Homo sapiens: one gene and its partners. The protein of the gene in region 4 interacts with the protein of the main gene of each other region in a biochemical or structural test. Each region holds a gene or a part of one and is shown on either strand. Other genes may lie near its edges.

The links.
Region 1: the proteins of FGFR1 (region 4) and RASA1 form a complex in vitro, tested with the Homo sapiens proteins (one study listed by BioGRID).
Region 2: the proteins of FGFR1 (region 4) and YES1 form a complex in vitro, tested with the Homo sapiens proteins (one study listed by BioGRID).
Region 3: of the proteins of FGFR1 (region 4) and BNIP2, one has a biochemical effect on the other in vitro, tested with the Homo sapiens proteins (one study listed by BioGRID).

What each region holds. Positions count from the first base shown.
Region 1 is NC_000005.10:87,368,141-87,373,380, reverse strand, and holds part of RASA1 (ras GTPase-activating protein 1), read right to left. Parts: intron 3,569-5,240; coding exon 3,481-3,568; intron 1,264-3,480; coding exon 1,186-1,263; intron 1-1,185. UniProt on the Homo sapiens protein: Inhibitory regulator of the Ras-cyclic AMP pathway. Stimulates the GTPase of normal but not oncogenic Ras p21; this stimulation may be further increased in the presence of NCK1.
Region 2 is NC_000018.10:731,245-736,484, forward strand, and holds part of YES1 (tyrosine-protein kinase Yes), read right to left. Parts: intron 1,722-5,240; coding exon 1,590-1,721; intron 1-1,589. UniProt on the Homo sapiens protein: Non-receptor protein tyrosine kinase that is involved in the regulation of cell growth and survival, apoptosis, cell-cell adhesion, cytoskeleton remodeling, and differentiation.
Region 3 is NC_000015.10:59,674,823-59,680,062, forward strand, and holds part of BNIP2 (BCL2/adenovirus E1B 19 kDa protein-interacting protein 2), read right to left. Parts: intron 4,947-5,240; coding exon 4,770-4,946; intron 3,266-4,769; coding exon 3,089-3,265; intron 1-3,088.
Region 4 is NC_000008.11:38,412,500-38,417,235, forward strand, and holds part of FGFR1 (fibroblast growth factor receptor 1 isoform 1 precursor), read right to left. Parts: intron 3,562-4,736; coding exon 3,371-3,561; intron 2,403-3,370; coding exon 2,280-2,402; intron 2,131-2,279; coding exon 2,060-2,130; intron 1,791-2,059; coding exon 1,653-1,790; intron 1,525-1,652; coding exon 1,419-1,524; intron 1,306-1,418; coding exon 1,129-1,305; 3' UTR 97-1,128; coding exon of another isoform or gene 1-96. UniProt on the Homo sapiens protein: Tyrosine-protein kinase that acts as a cell-surface receptor for fibroblast growth factors and plays an essential role in the regulation of embryonic development, cell proliferation, differentiation and migration.

The DNA of each region.
Region 1 (5,240 bases), on a different chromosome or scaffold from region 4:
ATAGTATCTGCATAAAATCTATGCATGCCCCCCTGTATGCCGTAAATCATCTCTAGATTACTTGTAATACCTAATACAATGTGAATGCTATGTACATAGTTGTTATACTGTATCTTTTTATTGTATTTTTTCGACCCATGGTTGGTAGAGTCCACTGATGCAGAACCCATGAATAGAAAGGGCTGACAGTATATGTAAATCACTAAATCACACTGCCCACTGATACATAAAAAGTGCTTGAGAGATGTTAGCTATGATTATATTAAACCTGCAAATGTCATTTTAATGGCTCAAGTTTCACACAAAATACAACTTGCTCTTATTAGCAAAAATCCAATCTGATTTTTGATAGCTTACAAAATGTTACAATGTTATGAAGACATGGCGATTGTGTGTATACTTAAATTTCCCTGGGGAAGAGCCAGACTTTGGGTTACAGGGACTATTTAGTCACCTAAATATCAACCATTATCCACTCCCAGTAGAACAGTATGTTAATCACTCAGCTTATCAGATATTCGCACAAAGAGAACAGGAGACACTTTGGTTAGTAAATAAATATTGTACTAAACTTTCTTTAAACCTTGAGAATGTCAAAATTTGCCTAACTTCTTCCAATTATACAGGGATTACTAAAAAGAAAAAAGCCAAGAAATGGAGGTTATAAAGTTACCCTTGTAAAGGCAAAAAAAAGAGAAAGCCTAGCTTAACTCTCCACAAATCTCAAAGTATAGGGCATGTTACAGTTTCAAATAAGATTAAATATTTCCTAAGAGTTAAGCAGTAGGTTTTAAAAGCTGTTCTTCAAAATGAAAATCCCAAAAAAGTTTATTGGGATTAGTGCTATAAATCTGATGATCTTTTCAATGTTCTACTTTTTTGAAAGAGGCCAAAATAAGTTTTTGAAGGAAAATTAAGTGCCCAACAGAACCGTTTCTGCTGTGTTGGTTTAGTGTTGTTATTTAAAGTGGAAGAATAATCTTTCTTATGTTTTTAACAGTTGGCATGGACTAAGAAAGAACATTCTCTTTCATAAAGAAGTAACGTTTTCCTGCTACTGAAGCAAGTGGCAGCATGGCTTAACCCCATATGATGTCCAAAACAGTTCAGATAAAAATAAAATAAAAAGAGCAAAGTGTTAGAGCAAAATGTGACAATTAAAAATCCAAGAAAATTAAGCTTCACCTGACGAAGGCGTTTATTGGATGTCCCTGGACTACTTTTCCGTAAATTGCAAAATGCCTGCAGACCTTTCATCCAATCCTGCAAAGAAAAACAGCACTTCAAAGAAATATACACTAGTTTATTTGGCTTCCAAATCATCAGTTAGGTTTTTTTTTTCAAATTCAACAATTTTTTCCTTCTCTAGACTGCCATTTCTATTCTCAGACTATACTGTACTTCATAACAATAACCAATAATAAAATAACAATAACATAACAATAACAATAATAAAACAACCAAAACAATTGTAATTCTGTATAAATCTTTGTTTGAATTTATGTATGAAACACATCGAGTGGCCATTAATTAGCCAAAAAATCAAATTTACATTAAAGAAACTATTTCTCCCAAACAGATACTACCTTGGGGAAATTAACTGTATAATTAAGCTGTTATACTTGAGGCAAGCTTAGGTGGAATTTAACTTGATACACTTTGTGAGAGGGGGAGAGTGCTGATTGTAAAACCAACTGATAATGTGATGACCGATCCCATGACAAGCATATTAATCTATACTTTAGACCATGATACAGGTAGAAATGTATAAGGGGATTTGGGTTATTTTTAAGCTTCTCAAATATAACATTAGATTTTAAAAATCATTTTAGCCTAATATTCAAATCAAATTGCAGCCATATTTTTAAAATGTTTATCTAGTGCTTTGGGGAAAAGGAGAGAACTAAGGTTTATTAAAAACAAATCTAAATATTCACTTTGGTTTTTACATATTTCTGGAAAGCTGTGTACTATTGCTTTATTCAATTATGTCTTTAGTTTGTTGGCTATTTCAATGAAGCTGAACTTTATTAATATCTAGAGACTGTCTTTATATTACAGCAAATTAAAACCAAATCAGTTACCATAGCTTTTTGAAATAGAAGAGAATAACCAGAGACCCCCACAGCCCAATAAATCAACAAAAACTGGAAATACCATTTATGGAAATACAGAAATATTATGTATAAATACATTAAAAAATGTTCTATGTTAGGCTTGCAAAACATGCTGAAATGTCATTATGGTATGTGACATTTTATTCAGAAAGAGGGACCATGGTAAAATACTTAGAAAATAGGATACTGAAGTTTAAATTTCTAACTCAATTTCTAACATTTAAAAAAATCATGTAAGTTACCAAAATGTTTTGAGCACTACCTTTCTCATCTAAAAATTAGGGATACATAGCCGTAAAATTTTATGTGCATTACATGTGAAATGAGCATTAAATGAGATATTTGATAAAGATGTGAAATATGACGTTCAGTTGTAAGCTCATTCAGGTTTATTCTGTGAGTCTCACGCTAGGATCTAGTTTTAAGAGCATCTTCCTCATATCTAGGGTTGGCAAATTATATTTCCAACAAAGCCACTTTCACTTCTTAACCACCTTTAAGTTCCTTCGTTAGAATATAAGCAGAAATTTAGCTGTATTTGTATAAAATACAACCATATACTCCAGAAATATTAGGGTTCAAAGAAAGCAAAAAAATTTTTTAAGAGACAGTGTCTCAGTTTGTTGCCTAGGCTGGCTTACAGTGTCTCGATCTTACTCACTGTAACTCAAACTCCTGTGCTAATGCAATCTTCCTGCCTCATTCTACCCAGTGGCTGGGACTACAGGCATAAGCCAGAACACCTAGCTAATTTTTTACTTTTGTTATAGAGGTGGGTTCTCCCTTTGTTGCAAAATATTTTTTAAAGAGTGTTTTTTAAAAAATATTATTTCTTCACACAATTACTTAATAGACGCTATAAGAAGGACACTGCACATGGATTAATAGCTAATCTAAAGTAGACATTATATCTCGACTTGGCTTAGAGAATAGATTCCTAAAATATCTTTCCTTGTGTTGACTGACTTTTATTTTCAGACATGGAGTTCAACCAGTGAAGAATAATGCTTGTTAGCAAAACTAACTGGTTAACTGGCTTACCTTTGGATTATACTGAGATGACCTATAACCTTTATGCAGAGAGGATTTTAAATGAGCATTCTCAGTTGGCCTCAACATCATAGAGTATTTAAAGGTCAATTTAAAATGGAGTTTTCATTCCTAATAACCCTTCACTGTGTTTGTTTTTGCATTTCTTTCAGAAAACTTTTTACATATGAAATCTCATTCCTTAAAATAAGAGATGATTAGATTTCAGGCGTTCTGTCACTTTATCTTGAATGCGATCATTTTCTATTCCAGTTAATAAGAAAACATGGGCTAACATAAAAGTATACTGTAGTTTGAGAAACAGTAATCTTACCTCTGCTTGTTCTGGAGTTTCTCCTGCAAAGTAAAAGATGTAATGTTCTTCACTAAAGTGCTGAACTACTATCTGAAAACAGTTTGGCCTTTAAAATAAAAACAAAAATTATTAGGAAGCTTAATAAAAAGTAGCAAAATATTTATACCAGCTTCCAAAACACTCACAATAAATAATTAACATAAAATTATAATTCTTAAAGAAATAATACTCCATTGTACCAGATCATTACTAAAAAAAAGTCAGCTATATATATTTTAGAAAACTTTATGTCAGCACTATTAAAATGTTATCAGTATTTCAAAGTGTAAACTAAAGAAATTTCAATTAATTGTAAAATACATTAGAAATAAAGTTACAAACAGATTGAAGCTGAACTGCTAGAACTGCACACAGCTAATTTGAAAAGCTTTATATGCACTGGAAAAAGACTAGAAATGTTCTTAGACCAAAAATGTTCTAAGTAATTATCTCTAAGGAGATTGTAGGTGATTCTGTATTTTCAAATTTTTCTAAACTGATCATTTTTCTTCACCTGTTAAAATGGAAACATCATCTCTTCATACATATGCTTGTTCTAGAGTTTAAGTGAACAGTTGTGTACAACAAATGTTCTTGTCTTCCTTTAGTATTATTTCAAATCATTTGATATGTAAGTACAATATTAGGTAATAATTTATATCATTTTGGAAATGTGCTATCTTTCCAACTAGACTTGAAAATATTGGTAAAATCTTTATTAAGGGCCTGCATGTTTTTGGAACTCAATAAATGTTACTTCTGTTTCCTGCTTTAAAGATTTTATATCATGCTAATGTTAGGAGGCCATAGCAAAAATACACAGAGGACAAGCTTAACACTTATTAAAGATAAAGACTATATTTTCATGCTTTGAGAATGTCTTAAAAGTAATCATGGAAAATAGGAATTGGAAACTTCTAATCCTAAATGTTGCCTGTATCAGACTAACCACCCTAGTTGGATAAAACTTAAAATAGTAATACAAAACAGAAAAACAACTGTTTGAAAGCACTGGAGAACAACCAAAGCAGCTAAGATTTGAGGAGCCAAGATCATACTATAATTAACCCGACATTCTCCACATCTTTTCCGTTCAAGGCAGTTGCCAGTTCCTAAGCTGGCTGTGTAGCTGAGACGCTAAGCAGAAAATAGTTCCTAAAAGGCTAAAAAATTAACTACAAATCCAGTAGTTTGATAGTGCTAGGAGAAAAAAGAATGAATTTCAGGCTTTCCATTGAGACCCCTGAAGGGCTGTGCCTTCATGATAAGGGCAAACCAGAAATAGAACAGCCTTTACAAGATGTACTAACCCTATACCATCCGTAAGAACAATTCTTTCTGGACGCAATAACATTAGTTTCCATAGTTTTTCATGTACAATGTCTACCACTTAGTCAAACTAAGTAGACACTACAGGCATCAGGATTAAATGGCTAAAAGTTAAGATGAAAAACCAGAAAGACATACATATAATGCAGATACTGAAGACAGACAAGACTTTCAAGTAATTATAATTAAAATGTTTAAGAAAATAGGTAACAAGAATTTTGCCAGAAACTGTATCTTTAAAAAAATGGAAATTCTAAATTGAAAAAAATGTAATAAAATGAAGTCCTGAAAAAGTGGATTTAACTGCAGAATGGAAGATTAGTGAACTGAAAGATCAGAAGAAAATATATAGGTTGGTACAGAGGAAAAAGGATGAAAAACAGAAAACAGCATGGGAAATAGTGCAACTT
Region 2 (5,240 bases), on a different chromosome or scaffold from region 4:
TTACACAGGAGAAGAGTTCAAGCTACAAGAGACCAGGGTAATAGAAGAATCATCACCATGTGTATTAAGATGACAATGAGTTAAGACAGGAGAGGAGTTTTGTTGGAGAGGACAATGGTGAGTCATTAAATGAGAATAACTTGAATGGTATCAGTGAATAACAGCAACCAGACAAAGTGGGTGATAAAATTTGATGGCATTAGATCTACAGCTGGAGGGAACTGTAGGGAAGAGGAATATGTTAGATAACATGCAAAACCCATAAGATTAGCAAAACAGTTTTTCCTAAAGATTAAATTTTATATGCTTTCACTCTCAACATTAGGATACTTCAGTACAAGAGTTTAGAAGTAACAAACTAAAGTAATACTGATCGCTGAATTTCAAGTGAGCTAAAATTTCTCCTTCCCCCTAGAAACTATATAAATCTCTTAATTTTGAGGCCAGGCACGGTGGCTCACGCCTGTAATCCCAGCATTCTGGGAGGCCGAGGCGGGCAGATCACAAGGTCAGGAGATCGAGACCATCCTGGTTAACACGGTGAAACCCCGTCTCTACTAAAAATACAAAAAATTAGCTGGGCGTGGTGGCGGGTGCCTATAGTCCTAGCTACTCGGGAGGCTGAGGCAGGAGAATGGCGTGAAGCTGGGAGGTGGAGGCTGCAGTGAGCTGAGATCGTGCCACTGCACTCCAGCCTGGGCGACAGAGCGAGACTCCATTTCAAAAAAAAAAAAAAAAAAAAAGTCTCTTAATTTTGAAAGGGAAACACTTTCATTTTTCCTCTTTATTAATGGCAGATATATTTATTAAAGTGCTGGTTTATAAATAGGTTAGAGAAATAAAACAAGAAAAGAATCTCAAAATAATCTACTGAAGAAAACAAGGCAAGTACATATTTAAAAAAATATACCATGATGGGCACGGTGGCTCACGCCTGTAATCCCAGCACTTTGGGAGGCCTAGGCAGGTGGATCACCTGAGGTCAGGAGTTCGAGACCAGCTTAGCCAACATGGCAAAACCCCATCTCTACTAAAAATACAAAAAATTAGCTGGGTGTGGTGGTGGGTGCCTGTAATCCCAGCTACTTGGGAGGCTGAGGCAGGAGAATTGCTTGAACCCGGGAGACAGGTTGCAGTGAGCCAGACTGTACCACTGCACTCCAGCCTGGGTGACAGAGCAAGACTGTGTTTAAAAAAAAAAAAAAAAAAAAAACAAAACACCAATCACACTACTGGGAAAGAACAGTTATTTAGGGTATAGGGTGGATGAGCCAGGATATTTAAGATATGTTTATTATCTGAGAGAACAGTAAGAGGCCCCTTTGGAAAATGTCCTGAGAAAGCTGAGGTGAATGTGGGGCCTATCTCATGTGCTCACCCTGTCAAGGATCGTGGCTTTCACTGACTTACCCGTCCAATGCCACAGTTACCCATCCAATGCCACAGTAAAGGGAAGGAGTGGGGAGAGGGAGAGGCAGGGGGACTATGAGAAGAAATAAAGGCCTTTTCCCCGCTTACAATTCTGTTCCTAATAAACTCCTGATAAAGCCACTCATGAGATAACCAAGAGCTATAAAATGCAAGCTTACCTGGATATGGCACTCGGCCCTTTGTTACTAGTTCTGTTTGCAGAATTCCAAATGACCAGACATCAGACTTTATTGTAAACCGACCATACAGTGCAGCTTCAGGAGCTGTCCATTTGATTGGAAATTTTGCACCTAAAATAATGTTGACCATCTTGCTTAATTGTTTTTTAAAAATCTATTTGTGTAAACATAGCATATGCAGGGCTAATGTTCTGTCAATATCTCTACTGTAGTCATCAGTGTCAATTCTTTAAATGTACAAGATACATGGGATAAAAATTCTTTAATTTTTAAAATTCATATTGAAATAAATCACATTTCTTCCTGATTAGACAGCTGATGATATAAAAAATAAGTTGGCTGTGGGAACAGAAAACAATTTAAGAAAATAGAGGTTGAAGCTCTAGTAAGCCAAAGATACATGTTATAATATGTGTAACTTTTAAGTACAGTCTGGCACCTAATAGCTGTAGTTAACTATTGGTTGATGAGTGAATATTCTATTGAGTTATAATGTTTATGGGTTTTCCTACTTTTTATATCATTCTGGAAAATTTTATTGTACTACTTTTAAAAGTCCATGTTAATTAACTCAAATACTTACTGTATATCTTTTTTGTGGAGGGCATTATGCTAATCACTATGGAAACCTAAAAAGCATGGCTTTCGGCCGGGCGCGGTGGCTCAAGCCTGTAATCCCAGCATTTTGGGAGGCCGAGGTGAGTGGATCATGAGGTCAGGAGATTGAGACCATCCTGGCTAACATGGTGAAACCCCGTCTCTACCAAAAATACAAAAAATTAGCTGGGCGAGGTGGCAGGAGCCTGTAGTCCCAGCTACTCGGGAGGCTGAGGCAGGAGAATGGTGTGAACCCAGGAGGCGGAGCTTGCAGTGAGCTGAGATTGCGCCACTGCACTCCAGCCTGGGCAACAGAGTGAGACTCCGTCTCAAAAAAAAAAAAAAAAAAAAAAAAAAAAGCATGGCTTTCATGAAGTTTATAAACTTATTGCAGAAATAATATTATAGGTGTCTTACATTCTTTAAGTTATTTATATGTGTTTGTAGATAGTGTTTTAAAACAGAGTTCTTTAGATATTTAGACAAACAGATGATCAATTTTCCTTGGCACCATTACAAAATGTTTTATTTAAAAAGTGGCAGGTGGTTGGGCACAGTGGCTCACGCCTATAATCCCAGCAATTTGAGAGGCCGAGGTGGGCAGATCACCTAAGGTCAGGAGTTCAAGACCAGCCTGGCCAACACGGTGAAACCCTGTCTGTACCAAAAATACAAAACTTAGCCAGGTGTGGTGGTGCATGCCTGTAATCCCAGCTACTCGGGAGGCTGAGGCAGGAGAATTGCTTGAACCTGGGGGGCAGAGGTTGCAGTGAGCCAAGATCATGCCACTTCACTCCAGTCTGGGCAAAAAAGCAAAACTTGGCCAGGCGCGGTGGCTCACGCCTGTATTCCCAGCACTTTGGGAGGCCGAGGTGGGCGGATCATGAGGTCAGGAGATTGAGACCATCCTGGCTAATACGGTAAAACCCCGTCACTACTAAAAATACAAAAAAAAAAATTAGCCGAGCTTGGTGGCAGGCACCTGTAGTCCCAGCTACTCGGGAGGCTTAGGCAGAATGGCGAGAACCCGGGAGGCAGAGCTTGCAGTGAGCCAAGATCGCGCCACTGCACTCCAGCCTGGGTGACAGAGTGAGACTCCATCTCAAAAACAAAACAAAACAAAAAAAACCAGGAGCAACTACAACATACAACATCACTAATCATCAGGGAAATGCAAATTAAAACTACAGTGAGACACTACCTTACTCCTGTAAGAATGGCCATAATGAATAAGTAAAAAAAAAAAACAATAGATGTTGGTGTGGATGTGGTGAAAAGGGAACATTTTTCCACTGATGGTGGGAATGTAAATTAGTACAACCACTATGGAAAACAGTATGGAAACTCCTTAAAGAACGAAAAGCAGAACTACCATTCAATCCAGCAAACCCACTACTGGGTATCTTCCCAAAGGAAATGAAATCAGCCAGGTGTGGTGGCTCACGCCTGTAATCCCAGCGCTTTGGGAAGCCAAGGCGTGTGGATCACCTGAGGTCAGGAGTTTGAGACCAGCGTGGCCAACATGGTGAAACCGTGTCTCTACTAAAATACAAAAATTAGCCGGGCCTGGTGGCAGGTGCCTGTAATCCCAGCTACAGGGGAGGCTGAGGCAGGAGAATCATTTGAACCTGGGAGGTGGAGGTTGCAGTGAGCTGAGATTGTACCACTGCACTCCAGCCTGGGCAACAGATTGAGACTGTGTCTCAAAGCAAAAAAAAAAAAATCATTATATGAAAAAGATACATCCACAAATGTTTATAGCAGCACAATTCGCAATTGCAGATATGGAGCCAATCTAAATGACCATTGACCAATGAGTGGATAAAAAAAAATGTGGCATATATACACCATGGTATACTACTCAGCCGTAAAAAGGAATGAAATAATGTCTTTTGCAGAAACTTAGAGCTAGAGGCCATTATTCTAAGTGAAGTAACTCAGGGATGGAAAACCAAATATTGTATGGTCTCACTTAAAAGTGGGGCTAAGCTATGAGGACACAAAGGCATAAGAGTAATATAATGGACTTTGGGGAGTAAGGGGGAAAGGTTGGGGGGTGGATAAAAGACTACATGTTGGAGGTGAAACCCCGTCTCTACTGAAAATACAAAAATTAGCTGGGTGTGGTGGTACGAGCCTGTAATCCCAGCTACTCGGGAGGCTGGGGCAGGAGAATCGCTTGAATCTGGGAGGCGGAAGTTGCAGTGAGCCGAGATCGTGCCGCTACACTCCAGCCTGGGCTGGGCAACAGAGTGAGACTCCGTCTCAAAAAAACAAACAAAAAAACCTACATATTGGGTACAGTGCAAGATGCTTGGGTGATGGGTGCACTGAAATCACCACTAAAGAACTAGTTTCCCAAAAACTATTGAAAAAAAAAGTGGCAGCTAAATTAGGCCCTAAAGAATGGTTAGGATTTTCACATGTAAAGATTACAGGCCGGGCATGGTGTCTCACGCCTGCCATTTTAGCACTTTGGGAAGCCAAGGCAGGAGGACTGCTTGAGCCCAGAAGTTCGAGACCAGCTTGGGCAACATGGCAAAACTTCGTCTCTACAAAAAATACAAAGAATTAGTCAGGCGTGGTAGTGTGCACCTGTAGTTCCAGCTACTCAGGAGGCTGAGGTGGGAGGATCACCTGAGCCCCAGGAGGTCAAGGCTGCAGTGGGCTGAAATCACGCCACTATACTCTAGCCTGAGCAACAGAGGGAGACCCTATCTCGAAAAACAACAACAACAACAAACATTACAGATAGGAAGGCATTCCAGATGGAGGTAACTGTACAGAAGTATGGAGGTTGAAAGAAAGCACTATGTCTAAAGCAGGGTTTCTCAATCTCAGCACCGCTACCATTTTGGGCCTGATAATTCTGTTGTGGGGGGAAGGGGGGGTTTGCCTGCACATTTCTGTACACTGTAGGAGGTTCAGCAGTATACCTGGCCTCTACCCACTAGATGTCAAGCAGTAGCCCCCAGGTTGTAACCACCAAAAAAGTCTGTAGACATTGTCAGATGTCCCCTGGTGAGTGGCGGT
Region 3 (5,240 bases), on a different chromosome or scaffold from region 4:
GGATTTATAACTTAAACTTTTATGGCTTTTCCTATTTCTTAAGGGCAGGGACTTAAGCCTTGTATTTTTGTATATCCCATAAGTATGGAAAGTGGGTGCTGTATAGAAGTGTGGAGTGAACTAGTTCTCTATTAAAAAATAATTTGGCCTGGGCACTGTGGCTCATGCCTGTAATCCCAGCACTTTGGGAGGCTGAGGCGGGCAGATCACAAGGTCAGGAGTTCGAGACCAGCCTGGCCAATATGGTGAAACCCCGTCTCTACTAAAAATACAAAAATTAGCCAGGCGTGGTGGCGTGCACCTGTAGTCCCACCTACTTGGGAGGCTGAGGCTGGCGTATCGCTTGAGCCTGGGAGGCAGAGGTTGCAGTGAGCCGAGATTGCGCCACTGCACTCCAGCCTGGGTGACAGAATGAGACTCCATCTCAAAAAAAAAAAAAAGAAAAAAAAATTTGTTCACGGTTTTAAGGCAAATTAAGAGTTAAGGTTAAAAAGTCCAAGTTTTAGGGCCGGGCACGGTGGCTCATGCCTGTAATCCCAGCACTTCAGGAGGCTGGGGTGAGCAAATCACGAGGTCAGGTGATCGAGACCATCCTGGCTAACATGGTGAAACCCTTTCTCTACTAAAAATACAAAAAATTAGCTGGGCATGGTGGCGTGCACCTGTAATCCCAGCTACTCGGGAGACTGAGGCAGGAGAATCCCTTGAACCGAGGAGGCAGAGGTTGCAGTGAGCTGTCACGCCACTGCACTCCAGCCTGGGTGACAGAGCAAGACTCTGTCTCAAAACAAAACAAAACAAAAAGAGTCCAAGTTTTACTTATATCCATAAATGACTTCTACAAGAATGTTCAAAGCAGTTTTGTTTATAACAGCCCAAGCTGGAAACAACTCACATGCACATAAAAAAAAACGGATAAGCAAATTATGGTTTATCCAAGCAATGGAAAACTACTCAGCAATAAGAAGGAATGTACTGTGGATACGTGCAACAACATGGATGAATCTCAAAAACTTCATGCTGAAAAGTAAACAAAAGAGTGCATAGGATGATTTTAGTTACTATATATGAAATTCTAGAAGAGGCAAAACTAATCAGGGGGTAGATATGACAGTGGCTACCGAAGCTGAGTATTCATTGCACAGGGGTACTAAATAATTCTTCTGGGACAATGAAAATGTTCTACATTTTTAGGGGTATGGGTTTTATATATATGGGTATATATGGTTATATAGGCATTTGTCAAAACTCATTGAACTGCACACTTAAGATCAGAGCATTTCACTGTTTATAAATTAGGGAGACTGTTCAGTCCCAGTTTTGGGTAGCCTAGAGACAGTTTAAAAAATTTTTTAATTTTGAGACAGGGTCAAAAACCAAAACAAAACAAAAAACTAGAGTGCAGTGGGATGATCACGGCCACTGAAGCCTCATCTTCCCAAGCTCAAGCTCTCTCTCCTCCCACCCCAGCCTCCTAAGTAGCTGGGACTACAGGCATATGCCACCACTCCTGGCTAATTTTATTTATTTTTTTATTTTTTTTATTTTTTTGTGGAGACGAGGTCTATGTTGCCCAAGCTGGTCCTGAACTCCTGGGCTCAAGTAATCCTCCTGCCTCAGCCTCCCAAATTGCTGGGATTACAAACCTGAGCCACCGTGCCCAACCTGACAGTTTTCACTACAAATTCTTTTGTACTTTTTCAACTTACTGTATGCATATAATCATTTTTAAATGGTACTTTTATTCTTTTACTTTAAACCTGTCATGTTTCTAAAATGAATGAGAAATGCTTATTATTCTTTCAAAATTACATAATATCTCTAGGCAGAGTTTCTAAAAGTATTTAGAATTCTGATATTGCATGAAACGGCTAGGGCAGGCGAGCGCAGTGGAGTGCCGCGCGGTGCGGTGCGGGCGGCAGAGTTGGGGTGTCATGGAGGATGAGCGGAGCTTTTCGGATATCTGCGGTGGCCGCCTGGCCCTGCAGCGCCGCTACTACTTCCCTTCCTGCCGGGAATTCTGCCTCAGCTGCCCTGGGCTCTCGCTGCGTTCGCTCACCGCTGTCACCTGCACGGTGTGGCTGGCAGCCTACGGACTCTTCACCCTCTGCGAGAACAGCATGATCCTCTCTGCTGCCATCTTCATCACCCTCTTAGGTCTGCTTGGTTATCTCCATTTTGTGAAGATTGATCAGGAGACTGTTAATCATTGATTCCCTTGGCATTCAGATGACTTCATCTTATGCTTCAGGCTAAGAAAGCACTACCTTCATAGAAATGGGCAAGGTCAAGGATATTGTCATCAATGAGGCTATTTACATGCAGAAGGTGATTTACTACCTCTGCATCTTATTGAAGGATCCAGTGGAACCACATGGGATATCCCAAGTAGTACCCGTCTTCCAGAGTGCCAAGCCCCGGCTGGACTGCTTGACTGAAGTATACAGGAGCTGCCAGGGGATCCTGGCACACCAGAAAGCCACATCAACAAGCCCATGAGCCCCAGCGTTCAGAAGGCCAGCATCGTCTTCCATGGGAGATGACTCTTAAGCCATAAGGGTTGGTTTTCCGTACTCCAAACCATCAGGTGGACACAGTCCTAGGAACCATTATGGATATAGTGCATCTCAGAGCCATAGAGCAGGTGACTGGAAATCTAACTCAGTATATTTCCACGTATTATAGTGTTTTCCTTGTAAGGTTTTGCCTACTTTACCAAAGGAGGGGAGACCTTAAGAATTTTGACACAGTATGTCAAAAGTAATGTCAGCAAAGAACATTGGGAAATTGCTAAGCATGTTCAGGTTTACTTTGTTGATGTTTGTGAAGCAAAACAATGGGAAACTGACATCAGATGTCTTGAGAAAGCTATATTTTCCATTAGTGCCCCTTGTGTAAAGTTACAAAAAAAACAAGCCCTCCAGGAACTGGTTAGCAGGAAGAAATGTCCTACAAAAGACGAGTCTCTCAACCTAGCGCCTGTGTTCTGTACAGGGCTTATTTACTCTTAATAAACAGATATCCTTCCAAAAAAAAAAGAATTCTGATATTGCATTAAACAATCTGAAAAATCCTCAGTAACTCTTACCCCCATGGCTGATAACTTTTTTATAGGGTTCAATTGCCTTCATATCAACCCTGTGGTCCTGTTCTCCAATCCTGAACATACGCCAGCGTCGTCCATCTTCTTTTTCCTCTGCTGCTGTGTATTCAGTAATTGAGCCTTTCCTAATTACTTCAGTAGTCTTGGGTTTTGGAAGATCATCTGTCAAAATACAAAGTTTTTGAATCACAAATTGTTACACAACAAAAATCAAATTATACGTTAACCACTTTACTACCTAGATTTTACAGAGAATTTTCATTATACCATCTGCACAATTTTCAATCTCTCTTCCATAAAGGAGGAAAAGGCTTATTCTTAACATGAGGCTGTTTTATGTCTTTGGAAATCATGGTTCTTTAACTTTTATTGCCCAATTTAGCAAAAACCACCTAATCATAGTGAAACGTGTATCCACAAGTTCAGAAAATATAATTTGTAGAGTCATCAAAATCTTAGTACACTGGCCTTACAATGCCTTTCCAGATTCAACTTGTGACAATATTCTCCCTGGCAGTTATGACTATAGGTTACTTCAAGTAGCTATCTGGGAGCCAATTTTGTTGTTGTTGAGCACATAAATTAACTGTAATACCAGATAGGAAGTGGTTAACTACTCAATGATCACTTCTCATTTGATCAGTTTTATAAAGCAGAAATGTATTTATAATACTTTGAAGTATACATGCAGAAGTCTATTTAAATTAGCATTAGCCAAAGCATAAGCACCAATGATTAAGTGTAATTTATGTTTTGAGATTGCAGTTTAGCTGATTTTCAATGTAGTAATAATTTTCAAAATTTCAGTATTATAGTCCTTACCAAAAGATGGGGGGAGGGGGAAACCTACTGCATGTTAGTTGTTTCCAAGACAAAGCTGTTAACGGAAAATATCCTTCCAGGAAATGACTACAGCAGCATTAAAGAAAGAAGAGACAAAACACATAGGCACAAAACTATTTCAGTATCTTTACAAAGTATTGCTTACTACTGGACTGTTTATTGAACCAGTAAAACAGGGAAGAAAAAAGAAACCAAAAATATAGCATATCACACTTTATTACAGTAAAATACTGAATGCTAAACACTACTATGAAAACAAAATCATTTTCAAGATGGAAAAAAATATGTAAAAATTATAACAACTATATATAAGATACTGTAGACAATTTTGTAATTAAAGAAAGCATGCAAAGTAAAACAGCACAATTCCTTTGAATTACAAGTAATAAGGAATACTAGGTTCGGGGGCTAAAAGTATACATTAATTTAAGTTGGTCATTTCACAAAGTAGAGCAATGTCAGGCAAACCTACTTAAAAAGTCACCCCAAATGCCTCCTTTCAGAACTCCCTTCCCACAAACTGTTAACTATATGTCTCTTCAAAAGTTTCTTACTTGATTGACTAAAAAAGAGCATGCCATAATTATCAAGAAATATTTTTGAAACAGCTATGAAAAAAACATGAGAGCAGTGGGCAAATAAGAGGGGAAAAAAGCCACTGGTGTACTCTATACACACTTTTTAAGTCCTTGAGAATATTCAAGGGTTAGCACAATTTCCTATCTTAGTAACAAATATATGAACTTTAGAAAGAATGATGTATTTCAAACAAAATCCCTTAGTACATTAATAAAGATCAGATTAAAAACAGTGAAACATTTACCTTCCCACTCAAACTCATTACTATTCTCTGACGGTGTGTCTAAGCCATCTAAGTCAATCTCCCCACTTTCATCCAAATCATCTGACAATACAGAGCCATCACTAGGATCCAGTGTCAGGCTAATGTCTGGAGCCATTAGTTTCTTTCTCACTTTATTTCCATTAACTTCTAGTGAGCCTGGAATTGGAAAATAAAGAAAAAGATACGTAACAAGGAATGCTTAGATGCTAAAGTTGAATAAGAAAAATTTTAACTACCCCATTCTTGGGAAAAAATAATATTAATTGAACATAATTTCAAAGCACCTATTCACAAAATTTTTATTCTGATCATTATTGCTTCTACATCGTTGGCAAGAGATCAATAAAGTATCAATGTCTTTTAAATAGAGGCAGACCTTATAGATACCTCTTACCACTAAAAATGATCTCCTCCACCCCTTTACTGTAAAACTTTCCAAAAACCAAGTGT
Region 4 (4,736 bases):
ATGGGGTTCCTGCCCTCGAAGCAGACATCTTCTTTTTCTGACTTTCCAAAAGCAGCGGAGAGGCAGGAGGTGCGTCGTGAGGTCTGGGTGCAGGACCTAGGAAGAAGAGGTTACAAGGAACCTGCGCCGGGAGCATGCGGTGCCCTCGGGACAGACCTAGCCCCAGGGCCCGTGGGTGTCCCTTCTTTCCAGTGGACATTCCCACCCTTTTCATACAGCCCATAGATAAATGAAGCAGCAGCAATTTTTATTGAGGGACCTAAACTGAAAATAGGTTTAGAACATAATTTAAAAAAATAAAACAGCAAAAGTAGCAAAAAATATATGACCTTTTTAAAAACATTTTCCTTTTTTTTCTTTTTTGTTTTTAATATATAGCAACTGATGCCTCCCAGCCACCAGGAGCATCTTACCCGATGGGTAAATCTCTGGTAACGACCCTTTTAAAAAGACATGTAAATATATACTCAGATTTATACACTTTGTGTTTTCTTCATAGCTATATACAGAGCCCCCAGTTTGGGGCTGGGCCCCAGGGCCACAACACTGCCCCCAACCTGGCCTTCGCCTCACCATCCTCTGGTACCAGGCATTTGGTCAGCAAAGCAAACTAGTATCGGAATTAATAAGCCACTGGCACCACCTATCTGGGGCAGAGGTCACCTTCAATCGAGGCACGAAGCACTGACCTCCCTACTGCTGTAGCCCTGAGGACAAGGCACCTGCCACCAGAGTGCGAGGGGCTTATGGGTGAAGGCAAAACAGACCAAACCGACAGGAGAAAGCTCAGGAAGCTCTCACTTGCATGCCTGTTCATTGGCTCCCACTCCCTGCCCTCCAGGCAGTGCCTGGTGGCAGGGAGGGGTGTTGGTCCAACATCTGGGAGGGGATGAAGTGGCTGGCAGCAAAGATCTGCCTCTTTGCACCTCTCACCAGCAGGTGGAGAGGAGGTGGAGGGAGAGGTGAGCTGAGTGGGGTGAAGGCAGGCCACACAGGAAGGCCCCTGGTAGGCAGCCGGCTCCTGCCAGCAGGAAAGGGGACAGGGACGGACAGGTGGTGGGCCCAGCAGGGGCTGTGGGTGAGGGTTACAGCTGACGGTGGAGTCTGGGGAGGGCGTGTGGGTGGCAGTCAGCGGCGTTTGAGTCCGCCATTGGCAAGCTGGGCTGGGTGTCGGGGCAGGCAGGGCTCCTCGGGCAGCGGCTCATGAGAGAAGACGGAATCCTCCCCTGAGGAGCACGTAGAGCTCCGGGTGTCGGGAAAGCTGGGGGAGTACTGGTCCAGGGGCATGGACAGGTCCAGGTACTCCTGTGATGGGCGAGAGGAAGCAGCGATGGGCCGGGCCCCTCCTCCCTGCTCAGGGAGGTGCGTGCACGCAGTGGGGACGGCCTGAGCTCTGGCTCTGGCACGGGCAGCCTTACCTGGTTGGAGGTCAAGGCCACGATGCGGTCCAGGTCTTCCACCAGCTGCTTGAAGGTGGGTCTCTGTGAGGGCACTGCATGCCAGCAGTCCCGCATCATCATGTACCTGCGGCAGGACTGTAAGGTCAGGGACGTCTCCTGGAGATGGATACTCTCTAGTCTAGCCCCCTGCCCCTCAAGCCCACTCTTGCCCCAAGGCCTGGCTCAGGGCCTCCGACATCTCCTCGGGCTTACAGCTCGTTGGTGCAGTTACTGGGCTTGTCCATGCGGTGACCCTCCTTCAGCAGCTTGAAAAGTTCCTCCACAGGCACACCGGGGTATGGGGAGCCGCCCAGAGTGAAGATCTCCCACAGGAGCACCCCGAAAGACCACCTGCAAATGGGCGGAGAGCCACAGGGTGTTAGAGCTTCTCCGCCTCCCCTCCCCCAGCACAAATCCTCTACCCAGGGCAGTGCCAGGAGACAGCATGGAGAACAGATCAGCCTTTCAACATCTGGAGCAGAGGGAATGGCCACAGACAATGTTTTGTTTTTCTCTCTGGGGCAGAAAGAGGACTCCTCAGTCCAGGGAGAAAGCAGGACTCTACAGTGCTAGAAGCTCTCTATCCCACACCTCCCTGGCAATTGCTATTACAAACTCACACATCACTCTGGTGGGTGTAGATCCGGTCAAATAATGCCTCGGGTGCCATCCACTTCACAGGCAGTCGGCCCTGAAAGCAGCACAGGGGAGGTTGGAGTGGCCCCAGGCAGGGCCATGAGGGCACAGGTGGGAAGGGACTGGGGGGTGGGTTCTCAGCCCACCCCACTCCTTGCTTCTCAGATGAAACCACCAGCACAGGGCGGCCTTGTCGGCACTCACGTTGGTTGTCTTTTTATAGTAGTCGATGTGGTGAATGTCCCGTGCGAGGCCAAAGTCTGCTATCTTCATCACATTGTCCTCTGTCACCAGGACATTCCTGGCTGCCAGGTCTCGGTGTATGCACTGAGGAAGGAGGAAGGGAGAGCGGGAGGCGGGGAGGTGAGGGAGCTGGAAGGCTCTGGGCGGCCGCCACCCATGCAACTAGCCGACTTGTCTCATAGAACTTCTGCCACACTGCTCTGCCCCCCGAACCTTTGCTTTCCCTCTTCTAACATTCTCTGCCAGCTCCAGGCTTCTCATCACAGCAAGCGCTCCTCCCTTCCTTCCCCAAAGACTGGCCCCTTATGCCTCTGCTGCGTCTGCAGCGATGCATGCTCCTAGGTCCTGCCTCCCAGCACAGCAAGTCCACATGGGGCTGGGCTCAAACCAGGCCAGCCCTTACACACCAAACACTGCACTCAACACTCACAGACAGTTTCATTTTATCTTCATAACAATTCTACAACAGGTATTGTTATACTTTATTTTCTTTTGAGACAGGGCCTTGCTCTGTCGCCCCGGCTGGGGTGCAGTGGTGTGATCATGGCTCAGTGCAGCCTCAAACTCTTGGGCTCAAGCTAGCCTCCCACCTCAGCCTCCCGAGTAGCTGGGACTATCGGCACGCACTACCACACCCAGCTAATTTTTTAATTTTTTTTTTTTTTTTAAAGACGGGGTTTCAATATATTGCCCAACCTGGTCTCACACTCCTGAGCTCAAGCAATCCTCCCGCCTTGGCCACTGCACCCAGCTGATATTATTATTATTTTGTATTTGAAGAATTTTAAGATGCTAAGTAGCTGCCTGAGGCTACGCAGAAAGTGGCAGTGCACAGATCGGACCCTGCATCAGTCTGACCCCAAGGCCACCTGGCTACACTGGTGCTCCTGACTCTGCAGTTCCCAGAGAGCCTAAGACAACACACAGGGCACACAGGGCCAGTGCTCAGTGCATCCACAACGCCACCACAAGATGATAAGTCACAGGCTGGAAGACTAGGGGGGCTCTGTTCCCACCCTGGCATTACCCAGGGGAGCCTTCAGGTTCCACACCTTCTTGGAGGCCAGATACTCCATGCCTCGGGCCACCTGGTAGGCGCAGGACACCAGGTCCTTGGAGGAGAGCTGCTCCTCTGGGTTGTGGCTGGGGTTGTAGCAGTATTCCAGCCCTGGGGGCCTCCGGGCCTGCAGGTACTCCCGCAGGTTGCCCTTGGAGGCATACTCCACGATGACATACAAGGGACCTGCAGGCACAGGAGAAGAGGCCATGGGGCCAGCAGCAGGTGAGCAGGTTTGGCTTCACCTCAAAGAAACCCCACCCCCAGCAGCACACCCCGGCCAACCTCCCATCTCCTGCCTCCTCTTAGGGGACCTGGGAAATCCATTCTACTACCCAAAAAAAATCAGAGAAATAATTACTCCCAGCATAGTCCAGAAAATTCCCGAGCAACATTGGGGTAAGAGCCCCAGTTTGTCTGTTTATTTTGAGATGGAGTCTCACTCTGTTGCCCAGGCTGGAGTGCAGTGGCGCAATTTCGGCTCACTGCAACCTCTGCCTTCTGGATTCAAGTGATTCTCCTGCCTCAGCCTCCCAAGCAGCTGGGATTACAGGCATGAACAATGCCTGGCTAATTTTTTTTTTTTTTTTTTTTTTTTTTGAGATGGAGTTTTGCTCGTTGCCCAAGCTGGAGTGCAATGGCGCGATCTCGGCTAACCGCAACCTCCGCCTCCCGTGTTCAAACGATTCTCCTGCCACAGCCTCCCGAGTAGCTGGAATTACAGGCATGCGCCACCACGCCCGGCTACTTTTTGTATTTTTAGTAGAGATGGGGTTTCACCTGTTGGCCAGGCTGGTCTCCAACTCCTGACCTCAAGTGATCCACCCGCCTCACCCTCCCAAGGTGCTGGGATTACAGGCGTGAGCCACTGTGCCTGGCCTATTTATTTATTTTATTTTTGAGACAGCGGGAGTATCTCCCAAGCTGGAGTACAATGGCGTGATCTTGGCTCACTGCAACCTCCACCTCCCGGGTTCAAGCAAGTCTTATGCGTCAGCCTCCTGAGTAGCTGGGATTATAGGCATGCGTGACCATGCCTGGCTAACTTTTGTATTTTTTAGTAGAGATGGGGTTTCACCATTTTGACCAGACTGGTCTCGAACTCCTGATCTCAAGTGATCTTCCTGCCTCGGCCTCCCAAATTGCTGGGATTACAGGCATGAGCCACTGCACCCAGCCTGAGCGCTCTTAGACCATAATTACTCAGCTGCCTCTGTTAACACACCACGTGTGTGAATCTAGGTATCTGTATTCCTGAATGAACACCAATGAGCGGAGCCCAGATCCCGAGATAACACATTTTAAACCTCTGCCAAAGCAGCCTCTCTTAACCCCCTTCCCTAGCTGTGGCTGAGAGAGGC